Linked DNA regions of Homo sapiens: region 2 is linked to region 1. Evidence: fine-mapped expression QTL. Tissue or cell type: whole blood. Region 1 holds a variant in brackets; the other region holds the start of a gene. All regions are shown on one strand. Distances are from middle to middle.

Region 1 (8,172 bases):
CCCTTTGGTGAACAAGGAAGCCGGCCTCGGGCACTGAGTCCTCCAGCAGGGCAGGCTGGCCAGACAGATGGGCAGGTGGACCCATGGAGGCCACAGCCCCCACTGTAGGAGGCCCCCTCGGCCAGCATCAGAGAACAAGTCCACCCCACTCCACGGACTGGAAGACCGAGACTCACAGGGGCCCGGGGCCACCCCTCAGAAGCCCACACACAGAGCCCAGCCCCACAGACACAGCTCACCCACTCAGCTCACAGGACTGAGCCTAGGATGGGCAGAGGGGACCTGGAAACCCACCCCAGCCCCAGCCCCGCCAACACCTCCTACCTGGAGGCTGCAACGAGAACTGTCAGGGCAGGAGGGGGGCTGCAGGCGCTGGGGCCGTAAATCAGGGCTCCCAGCAACCCCCAGGCCTGGAGGAATTCCAGGCCCCTCCACCGTTTCCTCCCAGCCAGAAGGGGTGTCCTGGGCCCACAACTCGGCTCCCTCCCCGTAGTGGGTACAGAGTGGATCATGAGCTTTCCTGGGCGAGGTCCCCTAAACCAATTCTCTCTCCCCTCTCCTCTCAGCCATCCCAGCTACAGGGAGGACACCGAGGCCAGGAAGGGGGGCGCGTCCATTGCCCCCCAGCTGCATGACGCAGAGTTGGACCCACGTCCAGGGCATGCCTCCGGGTGCAGCTGCTCTAAGCCCAGAGCACTGTGGCCTCTGGAGCACCACCAGTCTCCACAGCCCACTGGCCTGCCCCTGGGTCACCCCAGGCCCCGCCCAGGCCCCCTGGCAGCCTCTGCCTGCCCAAGATCCGCCACCACCCTCCACAGCACCGTGGCCTCCGGAGCACGGTCCGATGCAGGTGGAGGAGGCGCTCCCAGCCCTGGCAGCTACAGCCCCTCCCCAGCCACCAGCCTGGGCCAGGAGCTCCTGTCAAGAGCTGGACACCTGTCCTGGGTTGGTCCTGCCTCACCCAGCGCCCAGCCAGCTCCTCCTCAATGCCACCAGCCCAGCCCAGGACAGAGCTGAGCAAGCAGATGCTCAGGACCAGCCGGAGGGGCCACTTAGGCGGGCAGAACGCAGGGGCCAAGGAGCACCACAGGAAGATCCCAGCCCCGCTGGCGATGGGCACCTGCGTGCAGGCAGAGGGCAGCACATGGAACAGCAACACAGGCCTGCAACAGGACGCAGTGAGGGGGCGCAGGGCTGCACAGTGGTACACGTGTGTGTCCTGTGTGTGCACATGTGTGTCCTGTGTGTGCATGGGTGTGTCCTCCATGTGCACGGGTGTGTCCTGGGTGTGCACTCGTGTGTCCTGGGTGTGCACGTGTGTGTCCTATGTGTGCACTCGTGTGTCCTGGGTGCACACACGTGTGTCCTGTGTGTGCACGTGTCCTGGGTGTGCGTGCATGTGTCCTGGGTGTGCACGCATGTGTCCTGGGTGTGCACACGTGTGTCCTGCGTGTGCGCATGTGTGTCCTGGGTGTGCATCTGACTGGGGGCACCTGTGGGTTTCATCCCCCACCCCAGCCTGCCCCCAGGTCACACCAGGCTCTCCAGGCCCCCAACAGCCTCTGCCCACCTGAGGCCAAGCAACCCCGCAGGTGTCCTGCCCTGCTTACTCCCAGACCAGCCCCACCTCTGCAACCACCCCCCGGGGTCTCAGCCAACAGGAGGTTCCAGTCCCACAAGTTTCAGGAACCACCTGCGGCCAGTATGGGGCTGAGGGTTGGACCCTCGGCCTCACCCTGTCAGGCGCCCCCGCCTGCTCTTTGACATGGGGAGGGCACACAGGTGGGGGCACAGCCCGGTGAGTCCTCCGGACCCTGGGCAGAGGGGCAGGATGCAGGGGCAGAATGCTGACCCCCATCAGCAGCCACCAGGATGGTGTCCTGAGCCTGAGGGTCCCAGGCTCTCATGGCCCTTCCCCGTGCTCCACAGCACTCCAGCCGCCTGCCTAGTCCATGTGGGTCCCAGAGGAGCTGCTGGGCTCTGGAATCATCTTGGGAAAGGCAGGCAGAGGCTGGCCGAGGGTGGGGTAATTCCTGCCTTCCTGGGAATGGGGACAGCCTCAGGGGAGCCCTGGAGATGGATTTTCCCCGATTTACCCAGCTCCCCAGCTCCTCCCAGCAAGATGCTGGGGTGTGGGCTGCTGTGAGACTCCCCATCCCGCGGACCCTGCCTGCCTGCCTTCAGGGTCCCCTGAGTGTTACTAAACAGAGGGGCAAAGCGTGGCCCCCAACGCCCTGAAAGGGAGCCCGCGCTGCGGCCCCAGTGCGGAATCAGGTGCTCAGATCGTTCTGCCGGAGCCTCCACGTCTCTTCCAATGTGCACAGGAAGGGACCCCGGCAGTGTCTCAAACCTGCCATGGGGAGTCTCCTTTCAAAGTAGACTCGAAGCTGAGGGTGACTTGGAAGAATATCGGGCGGACAGGACCACGGTGGCCCGAGGTCCTGCGGGCAGGCTGAGTGTTGGCCGGAGGTAATTCGGGCCTGAAGGTCTCTGTCCCTCCTGCACTGAGCTGTGTGCTGCCCTCTGGGTGGGGCAGCAAGGAAGAGGCGCCCCTGTCGCCCGGGTGCTCCTGCTCACACCAGGGAAAGGGGCAGAGACAGAGAGGGCCCCTCTGTGGTCTGACCCCACCGGAGGAGATGGTCTCCTGGACGCCAAGGCAGGCCACACACGACGTCTGCTTCCTCGGGGGTCTGTGGCCTTCCACCTGACCGCCAGGCACATTCCCGGTCACTCTGCTTTCTGCTCCCCCGTTTGTCTCTCTGCCCTGGGAGAGTCGGGGCAGCTGCAGCCCTTGTGGGACCAGAGCAGGGCTGAGGCACGGTGCGGAGACAGGCAGGGGACGCCTGCCATAGTGGAGTGAGGGTCGCCGAGGCCAGCTGCTGCAGGAAGGGAATGCCGGCTCTGAGTACCACCAATGGCACAGCTGAAAACTGCAGCGATGTCCTCTCCCGCAGCCTGGAGACAGGCCTAAAATCGAGGTGTGAGCAGAGCTGTGCTCCCTCCGGAAGCCCCAGGTGAGGGTCCTTCCCGCCTCTTCCAGCTTCTGGGCCCCTGGCCGCTCTGCCCTGCATCTCTGCCCTGCCGCTCTGCCCTGTGTCTCTGCCCTGCCGCTCTGCCCTACGTCTCTGCCCTGCCGCTTTGCCCTGCGTCTCTGCCCTGCCGCTTTGCCCTGCGTCTCTGCCCTGCCGCTTTGCCCTGCGTCTCTGCCCTGCCGCTTTGCCCTGCGTCTCTGCCCTGCCGCTTTGCCCTGCGTCTCTGCCCTGTGTCTCTGCCCTGCGTCTCTGCCCTGCGTCTCTGCCCTGGCCGCTCTACGCTGTGTCTCTGCCCTGCATCTCTGCCCTGGCCGCTCTGCGCTGCGTCTCTGTCCTACGTCTCTGCCCTGGCCGCTCTGCGCTGTGTCTCTGCCCTATGTCTCTGCCCTGCGTCTCTGCCCTGTGTCTCCTCTGTCTCCCTCCAGGGAGGCTTGCCCGGGCGGGGCTGCTCCTGCCTGCTGGACCAAGCCCCGCACCCACAGCCCTGAACTGCTCACTGCCGGCGCTCCTGGGACCACCCTGGAACCCAGCCTAGGACGCACTCAGCCAGCGTCTGTCTCTCCATGTGCCTGGAGACCAGCAAAGCCAAAAGCCTGTGGCAAGGCACTCACAGGACTGAGGCCGCCTGCCCCGCCTGCCACACGTCTCTCAGAGGTGGGGGTCTCATTTTGCCACAGACACCGAAGCCACAACAGTGCAGGGCAACCTGATCAGCCCTGTCCCGGGATGGGGCCACGGCCATGTGGACACACAGTGGGCGGCCCCCGAGTGGGAACAGCCTCAGCTTGGCCCGTTTGGTTGGAGCCACCCGGGGGCCACACGCTGCAGCCCCTCCTGCCCAGCGGCTGCCGCTGGGTTCCGTGTCACAGCCACACACGTTTCCACACATTCTTCCGCTTGGGAATGGGCAGTACTTTGCACGATGGGGTCACCACCGTGTGGCCGCCTGGGCCCTCCACTTTCACGGGGCATGTCCTTCAGGGCCCCTCCGAGCCCGCCGCTGCCTCTGCCCGGCCTCCCACCAGCCACTTTTATGGGTTCACAATCACAGACGGGTCGCTGCGACGCCTGGCCCCTCCCCCAGCCATGGGGAGGACTTGCTGAACAGGGGGCCGGAAAGGGGCCCTGTCTCTCCCGGAGATGCCGTGAATGCAGCCTGGCTTCCCTGCGGCTGTGCCTGGGCAGCTGCCGGGTAAG[G/A]AAGCAGAAGCGGGCTGGGACCAGACACCAGGCTCCCCACCTGTGCAGCTGTGTCCCCCTCCCTGCCGCCCTTGCCACAGAGCAGCGCTTCCTGGTGGCCTTTTCCCCCCACCACGCCCCCCACACTCCCCTCAGGCCGGACCCCTCCATCCACAGTGGACACAGTAGCCTGGGAGCGTTGGATCCCCCACTCAGCTGAGAGGCACAGAGGCAGCCCAGGACCCTGCAGAGGTCCCCGCATAGCTTCTGCACTGCTCGGGGGGCCCTGCTCGGCCCCAGAGGCCCACTTGCAAGCATCATCAACGTGCAAGGCCGGCCCGGCCCCCGCCCCACACGAGGGGTACCTCCTCTTCTCCTAGGTCCCTGTGGGCCTTCGTCGCTGGCTGGGCTAGAAGGGCTCCCACGCCCAGCCCCTCCTGGTGTCCCTGGCTCCTCCAGACCTGTCTCCCCTCTCCCTCACACACTGAGTTTCAGGATCCCTGTGCCCCATGCCCCTTCCTGGGGACTCCGAGCGCCCCATCGCACCCCAGAGCCCCCACACTTGCTCCTCCGCCAGCACTGGGGCCGGGCTCCCCGCTACTTGCAGGCTGTGTGGTCGCCCGGCCTCCTGGAGGCACTTTGCCTCCCTTGGGAACAACCTGCTCCTCTCTTTTTCCACCCCAGAGCCTGGGGCTGCCTGGGATTGACAGGTGGGTGCAGATGGGAGCTCTCGGGCTCCTGCCCACCCAAATTCCTGGCACCGGGGCAGCTCCTGGGCCAACCAGCCCTGCCTCGCTGGCGTCTCCCTCTGCCAGCCCCACGCTGACACTTCGCCCTCCTCTCAGCAACGTGCTTCCTGCTAGCATCCTCTGAGCACCTGCTGCGTGCAGGGCCTGCCCTGGCTGCCTCCCCACTGCTCACAGACCCCGGTGTGCTGGCCCCTGCCCCATCCTCCAGGCCTGGAGTCTCCCTGACTCATTCCCCCGAATGCTCCCTTCCTTTATTTATTTATTTATTTATACCGATTCTCCTGCCTCAGCCTCCCGAGTAGCTGGGATTACAGGCGCCCACCACCACGCCTGGCTAATTTTTGTATTTTTAGTAGAGATGGGGTTTTACCATGTTGGCCAAGCAGGTCTCGAACTCCTGCCCTCAGGAGATCCACTTGCTTTGGCCTCCCAAAGTGCTGGGATTACAGGCGCCCACCACTACACCCGGCTAATTTTTGTACTTTTAGTAGACACAGGGTTTTGCCACGTTGGCCAGGCTGGTCTCAAACTCATGACCTAATATGATCCACCCGCCTCGGCCTCCCAGAGTGCTGGGATGACAAGCATGAGCCACTGCACCTGGCCCCTTCCTTTATTTAAATCACAGCCCAAAGCCACCTCTCAAAGCCCGATTCTGGCTTGCCATCCGGCCTGGTTCATGGACCCTCAGCCTCTCACCACCCCTGAGATCTCCACAGTCTCCTTGGCAGACGCCCACCTGAGGCAGCAGCCCTGACCACTTCTTTCCAGCTCTCTGTGTTCTCCAGCTCCCTGGGTGACCCCCTAAAACCAGATCACTCTCTCCAGTGTCTGGGGTCCCCATCTGTGACAGGTCTCTGGTGTGGATGAGTCTGGGGGCTCCCCCATCTCTCTGGACCTCAACTTCCTGAACTACAACTGGGCACTGTAGTGGGTTGAACAGTGTCCCCCAGGACTCACGTCCACAGAGCCTCAGGACGTGCCTTTATTTGGAAACAGCGTCATGGCAGGTGTAACTGGTTCCAGGATGGGGTCAGTGGGTCTTAGCCCGAGTGCCCGTATAAGGAGGAGAGGAGAGGCTCACAGGAGGACCCACGAACACGCAGGCAGAGCGATGTGGCCGCCAGCCAGGGAGCACGGGCAGCAGCAGGTGCTGGCAGAGGCCAGGAGGATCCTCCCTGTCTCAGGAGAAACCAGCCCTGCTGGCCGCTGGACTTTGGCCCTCTGGCCCCCAGAGCTGTGAGGGGTCCTCTGGCCTCCAGAGCTGTGAGGGGCTCTCTGTTGTCCTGAGCCTCCTAGTTGGTGGTGCTTCGTATGGCAGCTCCAGACACAAACGCAGGTGCCCTCATCATGGCCACCGCCCCGTGGGTCCTCGCTGGAGACTCTCAGAGGCCATCCCCTCCCACGGGCCCCAGGTCCCTGCCCTCTGTGCCCCGTCTGTGAAGCGGAAGGTTGGAAGACGAGGTCATTTCCAAAACTCGGCCCAGCTTGGAGACTGCCTGGTTGGCACCAACGTCCACCCCCATCCATCACCCCGCGAGGTCCTGGGGCCTCAGCCATCACGGTCCCCCTTGAAGGGGCTTCCTGGGTCCTCCAAGGATGTCCTGGCTTTCCACTGCCCAACCGGGAAGCCTGGGCCCGGGGACTTGGTGATGAGGAGAGGGGAATGAAGGGCTGGAGCTCCACCAGGGACAGAGATGGGGTGTACCAGGAAACGGGGCCAGGGGCCGTGGGGTCAGCCACAGGGGTTCAGACAGCAGGGATCCCTGCTAGAGTCTGGAGTCCCAGGTGGGAGCATCCCAGGAACCCCCACCCCTCCTGGGCCATGGGAAGGACGCTGCCTGCTGGGAGTGACAGCACTTGGCACCAAGCTGGCCAGGTTCCCCTCAAGGGCACGGCACAGCCGAGCAGGAGTGGGAGAAGGATGCGGGGCTGTAATAGGGAGGGATGGGGCACGGTCGGCTCCTGGCTTCTGGGCCAGAGAGTGTGACCCTTGGCTGGGTCCCAGTTACCTGGCAGGGCTGCTGCAGCTCCAGCCACGTCCGTCCTGCAGGGCGCCCACACCCTTTTCCCTGAGCTGGATGCCCCAGAGAGCTATTCCAGGCGCCTGGTGGAGACATGACCCGTCTGGCCAGACCGAGGCACAGCCACCACCCATGGCCTCGCCTGTGTGCCCTGGTGACTCACACCCACCGGAGCAGAGAGGCACCAGGATCCCCCTTGGCCATGCCTGGTGTTCGGGGAGGAGAGAACAGGAGCTGCCACCTGGGAAATGCCTCCTCCAGCCTCCCTGGGCCGCACCCCAGAGCCCTAAATAAATGCCTTTGCAGGTCTGCTCCCAAGAGGCACGAGGACTCCTGCCATGTTCCCTGAGACATGACTTAGCGGGCTGGCCACCATGGCCTGTCTTGCCACGATCCCAGGGCCCAGCCCTCTGTCCCCCAGCACCAAAGCCTGTCCCCATCTAGAAGAAGGCACTGGACTCGCTGTCCGCCACCCCTCCCGCCTTGCTCCCCTCCATCCTGCTCCGGGAAGGCTCCAGGCCCTCACATCCCACGGCCATGGAGCCTTGGGGAACCCGCTGCCCCGGTCTGGAACGTGGAGCAAGCTCAGGCGACGGTTTCCGCGGACAGGACAGACGGGGTGGCCGGATCCCCTGCACAGCTCCAAGTTTGGGTGACGGTTTCCGTGGACAGGGCGGACAGGGTGGCCGGGTCCCCTGCACAGCTCCAAGTTTGGGTGACGGTTTCCGTGGACAGGACAGACGGGGTGGCCGGGTCCCCTGCGCAGCTCCAAGCTTGAGTGATGGTTTCTGTGGACAGGAGGGACGGGGTGGCCGGGTCCCCTGCACAGCTCCAAGCTTGGGTGATGGTTTCCGTGGACAGGGCAGGTGGGGTGGCCAGGTCCCCTGCGCAGCTCCAGGGATCCATCTGGGAGGTGGCCGCAGAGGGAGCAGGGATGTGAGGCTGAACCGGCTGACATGCTGCAGGGTCAGGACCGGTCCCAGGACCCATCCAAGGCCCAGTGTCCCTTCAGTCCCAAGAGCCCACATCAGCTGTCCCAGCACAGAGCCCTCCCCTGGTGCTGGGGGCTGGGGGCTGAGTGGTGGGCGCAGGGGAGGGGTCCACCTCTCATAACCCAAATCCTACCCCACGTGCCCAGTCCCTGAAGCTCCGCCCCAGCTCTCTCTAAAGTCCCATCGGCCTTGTGATGCC
Region 2 (8,172 bases), 29 kb after region 1:
CACTCTGCCAGCAAGGAGACACCTCAGATCTGACAGGCAGGTCCCGGAGATGCTCGAGTAGACTCATCCCAGTCTGCGGACAGACACCCCGGATCCCGGACAGCCCGTGCAGCCGTTGTCGAGGGAATGTGGCCTTGAGTGCAGGGGCTCTCGGCGCCAAGACCGGCCTGGACCTCACAGCGCCCTGCAAGGCCCCTGCCACCCCCTCCTTTGGTCCTTGGGCTGTGCTGCCGTTTCTCCTCTACCGAGATGCAAAGCGAAGGTGCTGGTGCCGCCAGTCCTCACGGAAGAGGGACCAAACGGCAGCCCTTCTTTGTGGAATAATCCCACCACCTCAAAAAGAAAGATAGAAGGGAGAGGGAGCTGGTCCGTCGTCGGCAGAGGTGTGGCCATCTGGAGGCCGAGGGCCACGGGCAGCAAGCGTGTTTCCCTGCAGACTTCAGCAGGCACTTGGAGCTCAGCCACTGGGGCCCCTCCCGCCCTGGTCACACACACTGGGCCGGGACAAGGCTGCCCCCTGACGCCTGCGAGTCCCTCCCCGCGGCTGGGCCCTCAGGGCCTGGTCAGGGTGGTGTACACCGGCTGGTCCCAGTGACTGGTGGGGCTGTGGGCGGGCGGCAGGGCCAGGCCGTTGAGCAGGGGTGAGGCGTAGGGCCGGCGCGGCGAGTGGAAGCAGGGGTACTGGTAGAGGCCGGGTGCGTAGCCAGGGTAGGCACCATAGTAGCTGGAGGCCTGCAGGTCGCCATAGTCGCCCTGTGAGCCGGCGAAGGGGCCGGCGGGGGCGGCCGGGGTGGCGCTGGACTGGCCGCTGCAGGAACCGTAGTCGGGCGAGCCTCGGGGCTGGTCGCCGTAGTGGCCGGGGCTCGGCTGCTCCGTCTTGATGTGCGGCCGTGGGGGACCCGTCTCGGTGGGCGACGCGGAGGCCGACGGGGCACTCTTGTGGGCCCACACGGGGGACGCCCCGGCGTGGAAGTAGGCGCCCCCATAGGCCTGGCCCGGCTCGGGTGGGGCGGGGCCGCCCAGGGGCAGGTACTGGTCGAACTCGTGGACGTCGAAGGCGTCCATGGTGCCCATGACCTCGCTGCTGAGCTCCGAGATGTCCACGTTGCTGAAGTCGATGTTCTGGCGCCCGCTGTCCACCGGCCGGCGTCCCTCCAGCTTCAGCTCCGGCTTGGCGCCCGCCTGCTGCAGCTCCGTCTTGGGGGTGGTGGGCGGGGTGGGCGGCCCGTGGGTCTGCCCTGGGGACAGGAGAGCAGGCTTCAGGGATGAATGCCCCTTCTGTGGGGCGGGTGGGGCCGGCCAGGCTGGAAGGGGAGGGACGCCCGCGCTAACTGCCAGGGGGATCAACGGCTTTTTGTTTCTTTACATTTCCCAGAAATTCCAGCAAAGTCAGACCTAGACCTCACTCCTCGGCCGAGAAAATTCCATGAAGCGCTGTGCTATGAGAAGACCCGAGGCCCCTCCCAGAGACCAAGGTGGGGGGAAGAAGCCGACAGGCCCAGCCTGGCCAGAGCTGGGGTTTACAGGGCGCTGGGGGACCACACAGACCCTGTTCCTCCCCGGGCCAGCCAAGCACTCTGAGGCTGGCGGGCGTCAGCCAGCCTGACCGAGGCCCCGGCAGGACTCCACCCTGTCAGTCTGGCCCTGAAGCTGGGGCTGCTGAGTGCCGTGTGGGCAGCAGCTCGGTGTGGGAAGAGGAGCCCGCATTGGACTGAGTCTTGCTGAAAACACCACCTCTCGGGGTCCCTGCCAAGCAAAGCTGTCAGCCCCTCAGCACTCAAGGTGGCTAAGCAGGTCCCTCGTGCACCAAAAACAGGGGCGGCCGGGGCCTTGGGAGCTTTTTCAGGGAACCCGGGGAAGGCCCGGTTCTCTCGAGGGCGCCTGCCCCCCTCCACCATCATGCACCCTTCTCAGCCAGAAACCCCACAGCTGCCTCCCATACAGGGACCCTCAGATATGCGGGGGGCCTGGAGCCCACCTGTGTGGTCGCCATGGTGGTGCCCATCTCCAAGCCCTGCTTCAGCCTTGTACACGGCACCGCCGCCAGGGTGGGGTCCCAGCTCCGCGCCCGAGTCGGAGTCGCTGTGGCCGGCTTTGGCGCTCTTCCTGCGCCGTGGCTGGTACTTGTAGTCGGGGTGGTCCTTCTTGTGCTGCACGCGAAGGCGCTCTGCCTCCTCCACGAAGGGCCGCTTCTCGCTCTCGCTCAGCAAGCTGCAGCACAGGGCAGAGGCAGGGATGGCCAGGGCGCCCACTGTGCCCTCGGCGCAGGCACACACCACAGGGGGAACCGGCAGCAGAGGCCGGGGCCAGGAGGCTCTGACCAGGGAAACCCGCCTGCCGTGCGCTCCGGAGCCTCCCGTGGCACCAGGCAGTACACTCCTCTGGGAGAACCGGCCGGCGCCTGTTTGGGAAGGTTGGTATGCTTACGACAGCCAAAGAAGAACAAGCCCCACGCCTCCCATCTTCCTCCTTCTATTTCCCCCTATTCCGGGCCTGCTGTTCCCTCCCTCTGGGGCTTTCTAAGGGAGGCGGGGGAGGCGGGCAGGACCCAGCCGGCGGTGGACAAAAGCGAGGCTTCCCGGGAACGGTGCCGGCCTTCGGCGGGCAGCTGGGCTGCTGTCCCTCCATTCCCAGACACCCAGAAGCCCTGGCAGGGCCCAGGCGCCCGTCCTCACTGAGCCACAGGACACACTCCTTGGGACTCTTCCCGAGGCTCACCTCCAACCGCCTGTGCGGCAGGACTTGGGGGAGCAGGGGCCTGCCGTCCACAGCGCCCCGTGGCTGCGCCCTAGATCCAGACAGAAGGCAGGAGGTGCAAATACGCAAGCTCCAAGCTCCCTTCTTCCAGGTGAGGAGCAGGATACGGGAACCAGAGCCCCAAACCAAGAGAACCATTTGAAACCCAACCAGAGGACACTCGGTGGGGGCGGCCTGTCCTGAGCAACAAGTTCTTCACTCTGCAGTCCTAATTTCTGGAAAACTGACCGGCCCCACCACGCCAAGGCGTGCACACGGCGCACCCCGTCATCTCCACTCCTGCCCTCCCTGCTTCGGACCGAGGGTGTCCAGGAGAGGGAGAAACTGCGGGGAGGGTACTCGCAGGCAAACCTGCTGCCCACCCATCCGCCTGCCGCACTCCCTCCCCATGGGTGGTCCAGGAGCTAGAGGAGCTGAGCCCTTTCTAAGGAGGGAGCACCTCCAGAGAGCCGCATGCAACTTGCTGTCGTGCCGGGCGTGCCTCCCGGGGCTGGGGCCACTCGCAACGGCTGGAGGGCACGTCGGGGTGCCAGCCATGGCCCTCCGCAGGGTGTTCCCCGCCAGGAGAACTGGCTCCAGAGCGCACCCGCCACGAGGGTGCACACCCCAGGCGCTGCCCTCCGCGGATCCCGACTCCCATAGCTGGCGCCGGACCCCGGCTGGCCAGAGGATGTTTTTCCACTGGGACCCGCCCTGACACCCGCCCGGGGTGCAGAGCCCGGAGCCTGCGTGTGGCCACCACCTCCGCGAGCTCTGCGCCCTCCAGGCCCCCGCTCGCAGTCCGAGACCAGGGGCGGCCAAGGTCCCGAACCCCGCCCCCGGGGCGCCGGCACTCACCGCCACAGCTTGCCCAGCGTCTTGCTGAGCTCGGCGTTGTGCAGGTGCGGGTACTGGTCGGCCAGCTTGCGGCGCGCCGCCTGCGCCCACACCATGAATGCGTTCATGGGCCGCTTCACATGCGGCTTGGCTTTGAGCGCGCCGCCGCCGCCGCCGCGCACCGGCATGGGCACCAGACTCCAGTCGTAGCCCTTGAGCACCTGCGACACGGCGTCGCGGATGCAGGCCGGGAAGCGCTCGTCCGCCGCCTCCGCCGGGTCGCCCCGGGCGCCCCCCACCGCGACCCCCGCGCGGCCCAGGCCCTCGGAGCCGGCGGGAGACGGCGGCGCGTCCGAGTCCGAGTCCTCCACGTGCGACATGGAGCTGGCGGTGCCGGACGGGCTGCAGGGCGGCTGGGAGCGGGCCTCGCTCATGTCCAGCATCGGGGCCGCGCGCGGAGGGGCGCGCACAGGAGACGCGCACCGGGGCCGGCGCCCGGGGCTGCCCTGCGGTCGCTCCGGGACCCGAGGTCGCCGCGCGGTGGCCCCGACCCTCGCCCCTGCCGCCGCCGCCGCCGCCGCCGAGGCTCGGGTCCCGCTGCGGGACCCGCAACAAGTTTCTTTAAGCGGCGGCCCCGCGGCCCCGCCCCGCGCCCGGCTACCCATTGGCGGAGCGCGCCCCGATCCCCCGGAGGCGGAGCCCGGCCGCCCCCGCCCCCCCACCCATAAAGAAAGCTCCGCGGCTCTCGCCGCGCCCCCGCCTGCCCCGCCCGGCGCCGCACCACGTGGGCCAGGCGCCCCACGCCTGGAGCTCCCCTCTCTGGAGCCCCGGGAAAGGAAGCGGGGCAGGGAGGCCGGGTGGGAGCAGGGGGGTCTCCGGCGCTTCCTCTCCTCTGCGGGCGCCGCGCGGCTCCTGAGAGTCCGCCCCCCGTCCTGACGCTCAGCTAGGAAGCGGGTCCTCGGGCCCCTCCCCCGACACACACACACACACACACACACACACACACACACACACACACTCTCTCTCTCTCTCTCTCTCTCTCTCTCTCTCTCTCTCTCTCTCACACACACACACACACACACAGCCCGTCTCGCGCCTGAGGTCTCGCCCGCAGGCCGGTGGCGCGGGGTCAGCTGCTGCCTGCGGTCCAGGACAGGGTCGGTTCCGCCGCGCAGCGCCCAGGCCCAGCTCGTCCAGAGTCTGCGGACAGCGCACGTCCAGGTAACGCGCTTCAAGGGGCCGCGGCTCGGAGCTGGGGGACCCCGGGCCGCCCTGCCCATACGAGTGCGAGCGTGGAGAGCGCGGGCGGGGGCGCGGTCCCGGGGGCCGGCCAGCTGGAGGGGGCGGGAGCGCTGGGCGGGGCCTGCGCTGACCCCGGCGCTGAGTCCCTGGGGCCGCCGGGCGGATGGCGTGGCCGGACGCGGGGGCCCCGGGCCTTCCGGGCGTGACCTAGGGCTCGGGGGCGGGGAGGCCCCTCCGGCGGGGCGGCCCTGGGTGGTCCGGCAGAGGCGGAGGCCGCTCCGAGCCTGTGAGCCCTGGGCGCCTGCGGAGGCGGGGAGAGGGCGGGGTGTGCCGCCCTGGTGGGGACCGCGGGGTCGGAGAGGGGACATTGCCCCCCCCGAGGCGAACGTCCAACCGCGGGTCCGGGTCCCCGCCCAAGGCCGCCCCGCGAGGTGGCCTCGGCCCGGCCGTCCCCGAGGGTGGCTCGGATCCTTTCAACCAGCGCGCTGGAGGCGAAGGGGCTGCGCCATTCCGGGTCAGGCAGCCAACGCGGGACACGCGCGTCTCCGAGCTTGCGGCCCGCGAAACCCGGGTGACCTACCGCGCCGGTGCCCTCAAAGCCCCCACGCCCGGGCCGGTGGCCGCTGCAGCCACTGAGCCACGCGGTCTCCCCGGCCCGGTCGGCAGAAGGAGCTGGTCCGTTACTAGAAAAGTCCAGATGCAAAGTCGGGGGTCGTGCTGCCGCTTCCTGCCAGCGCACCGCACCCACCTGGGGCCGCCACCGACCGCACAGGACGCGCCTCCTACCCCCTGTTCTGGCCCGGCCGAGAGCTGGTGCCCCCAGCGGCCGCCCGCCCCCGTCCGCAGACCCCGGGGCCCTTGCTGCTTTGCATTGGGAACAACCGGAGCCAGGCCCGGAGCTGAGGGGGCCAGGGCCTTTGGAGGAAGCATTGGCCTCCAGGCTGAAGAGCAAGGGCCGTGTCACCTGCCCGGAGGGCGGTCTCATCTCTGCAGCCAGGTCAGAGGAAGCAGCGGTGGGGAGACGGAGTGCGCGAGTTGGGAGGCTCCACGCATCGTAGGTGGAGAGCTGGCTGCCAGCCTGGCCTGCCCTCTCTTCCCCGTCCCACCATCTCGCTTGGCTCCGGCACCTGCCTGGGAAGACCCACACCTCCGTCTGCAGTGCCTCTTCCCCCTGGAGGCCCTGCCCTCCGCTCGGGGTCCCCGCATCCTTCCGTGGCCCTCAGAGCATCGCCTGGGGCGCCCGCGGAACTCATCTGTTAGGCCTGGGATGCAGGCAGGCAGAAGTGGGGGTTTAAGTGGAAGCAGTGAGGGTGGGGGTCCGGTCCAAACTGTGCCACCTTCCACCCCCTGCCCCTGGGAGAGCAGACATCGCCCACTCGGGCTCACAGTGCCATCCGGGTGAGGACCTCCGTGGAGAGCTCTCTTTGCCAAAGAAAAGCAGTTGCATTAGGTCTGCGAGCAGGCAGGGTGGCCTCTTCCTGGCTCCCCATCCACCAAGGAAGCTTCAAGTCCCTGGGACACAGGTGGGGAACTCCAGCACCCCTGGAGGAAGGGAGACTGAGGTTGGGGAGTGGCATCCAGGCCCTGACTCTGGGGCACGGTGGTCTGTGCAACTGAGACCCTGCCTCAGGCTCCAACAGCGCCTGCTCCTTTCCCCAGGTTGCAGTGATCACCAGGGGAGGTGCTGGGCGTGCAGGCTGCCACAGGAGGGGTGGGGAGGTGGGGAGTCTCTGTGGCGGGGTGGTGGGGGCCTAGGCCAGTCAGCTGAGGACGTGTTGGTGCACTCCCGGGAGGGCGGTATGTGGGTGAGGATCCCCATGCAGAGTGGTGCCCACAAACCCCCCTTCCAGAGTCATCTCTGGTCCACCTTGAAGTCCCCAGGAAAATGACCTCGTCCTCCGCGGGTGTGAGCCACTAGGCCTGAGAGGACGCCGGGACGGAGCTTTCAGAGAGGGAGGTGTCGGGATGGCTTGAGGGTCACCAGGTATTAATTAAGCACTTGCTGTGTGCCAGGCACTTTCCCACACAGGATGGAGCCGGGCCACCCTCACAGCTCCTGCCCTGCAGACGCTGGCCTTGTGGAGGGAGGCAGGCAGCAGGTAACTCCAAAAGCACCTCTCAGAGGCGGGGACTTCAGGAAGGATGGTCTGGGAAAGCATCTTTGGTGTCATTTAAGCTGAGCCCTGAAGCTTCTGATCTCCTGCAGGGAGAGGCCAGCGTGTTCCCTGGGGAAGCTAGAGCAGAGTGTCTGATGACAAGAGATGGACCCGGGGGTGGAGAGTGGAGGGGCAGCCATCAGAGCCACCTCTGAGTCCACCTGATGGGCCCATGTCTTCATCCAGGGGGGAGCTGCACACACACCCTCCTCCCCTGTCTCCCATCCCTGCCCCACCCCTTCAGCTGGGGCCTGCTCCGCCGTGTCTGCATGGCCCCACCCACCCTGACCTCACCACCTGCTAGTGGGCCTTGCAGTTTCAGGGGGAGTGTACGTTTCAAGTATACCCTGATGGGGGAATCTGGACCAGGGCTGTCCCCTGGGCCGTGAGTGCCGGGCGTGGAGAGCTGGTGTAGATGACATTTGTAGCTCCACATGCCCTGGCCTGGGCGCCAAGGACAGCCGCAGAGAAGAATGTGGGTGGACAGGCTCTGCTGCCCATGAGATGGTGCAGGGATGGCCTGGGGGATGCTTCCAGATGAGAGACCACCCCACCCTACCCGTGGCTCCTAGGGATGGCGACCCCGGAGGCGCGTGTGTTCATGTGTGTGTGTGGTGTGTGTTTGTATGGTATGTAATGTGTGATATGTGTATGGGATGTATGTATGGGGTGTGTTTATGGTGTGTGTGGTGCGTGTATAGTGTGTATGGTGCGTGTATAGTGCGTATGGTGTGTATGGTGTGTGGTGTGTATGTGTATGATGTGTGTGATGTATGTGTGTGGGGTGCGTGTATGGTGTGTGGTGTGTGTGTGTGTGTATGATGTATGTGTGTGGTGTGGTGTGTGTATGGTGTGTGGTGTGTGTGTGTCCGTGTGTGTTTGGTGTGGTGTATGTGTGCAGGGTGTGGGTGTGTTTGTGTGTGTGTGATGTGTGGTGTGCGTGTGTATGATGTGTGTGTGTGGTGTGTGTGTGTGCGTGTATGTGTGTGGTGGGGTGTGTGTATGGTGTGTGGTGTGTGTGCGTGTGTATGATGTATGTGTGTGGTATGTGTGTGGTGTGTGTGTTTAGTGTGTGGTGTATGTGTGCAGGGTGTGGGTGTGTTTGTGATGTGTGGTGTGCATGTGTATGGTGTGTGTGTGTGTGTGGTGTGTGTTGGGCCCAGGGCACGAGGAGGAAGCAGGGCTGCCCAGGGAAATGCCA

The links. PIP is the estimated chance that this variant, and not a neighbour inherited with it, causes the effect.
Region 2: SOX8 starts here. The variant in region 1 is fine-mapped to the expression of SOX8 in whole blood (TOPMed, PIP above 0.99).

Annotation. Positions count from the first base shown.
Region 1 is chr16:1,006,418-1,014,589 of GRCh38, reverse strand. No RefSeq gene overlaps it. Among named protein-coding and RNA genes, the nearest start is that of SOX8, 29 kb to the right of the region's middle. RefSeq lists a silencer at 33-234 and an enhancer at 3,988-4,607. The variant G/A (reference allele first, on the strand shown) is at 4,230.
Region 2 is chr16:977,767-985,938 of GRCh38, reverse strand. SOX8 (SRY-box transcription factor 8) reads right to left here and starts at 4,169. Exons shown (of 3, transcript NM_014587.5): 1 at 3,595-4,169; 2 at 1,979-2,211; 3 at 1-1,238. The coding sequence starts at 4,016. The coding sequence ends at 553. It overlaps CEROX1 (cytoplasmic endogenous regulator of oxidative phosphorylation 1), which reads left to right and starts at 4,326. Exons shown (of 3, transcript NR_164343.1): 1 at 4,326-6,338; 2 at 6,829-6,914. It also overlaps a transcript of LMF1 not described here.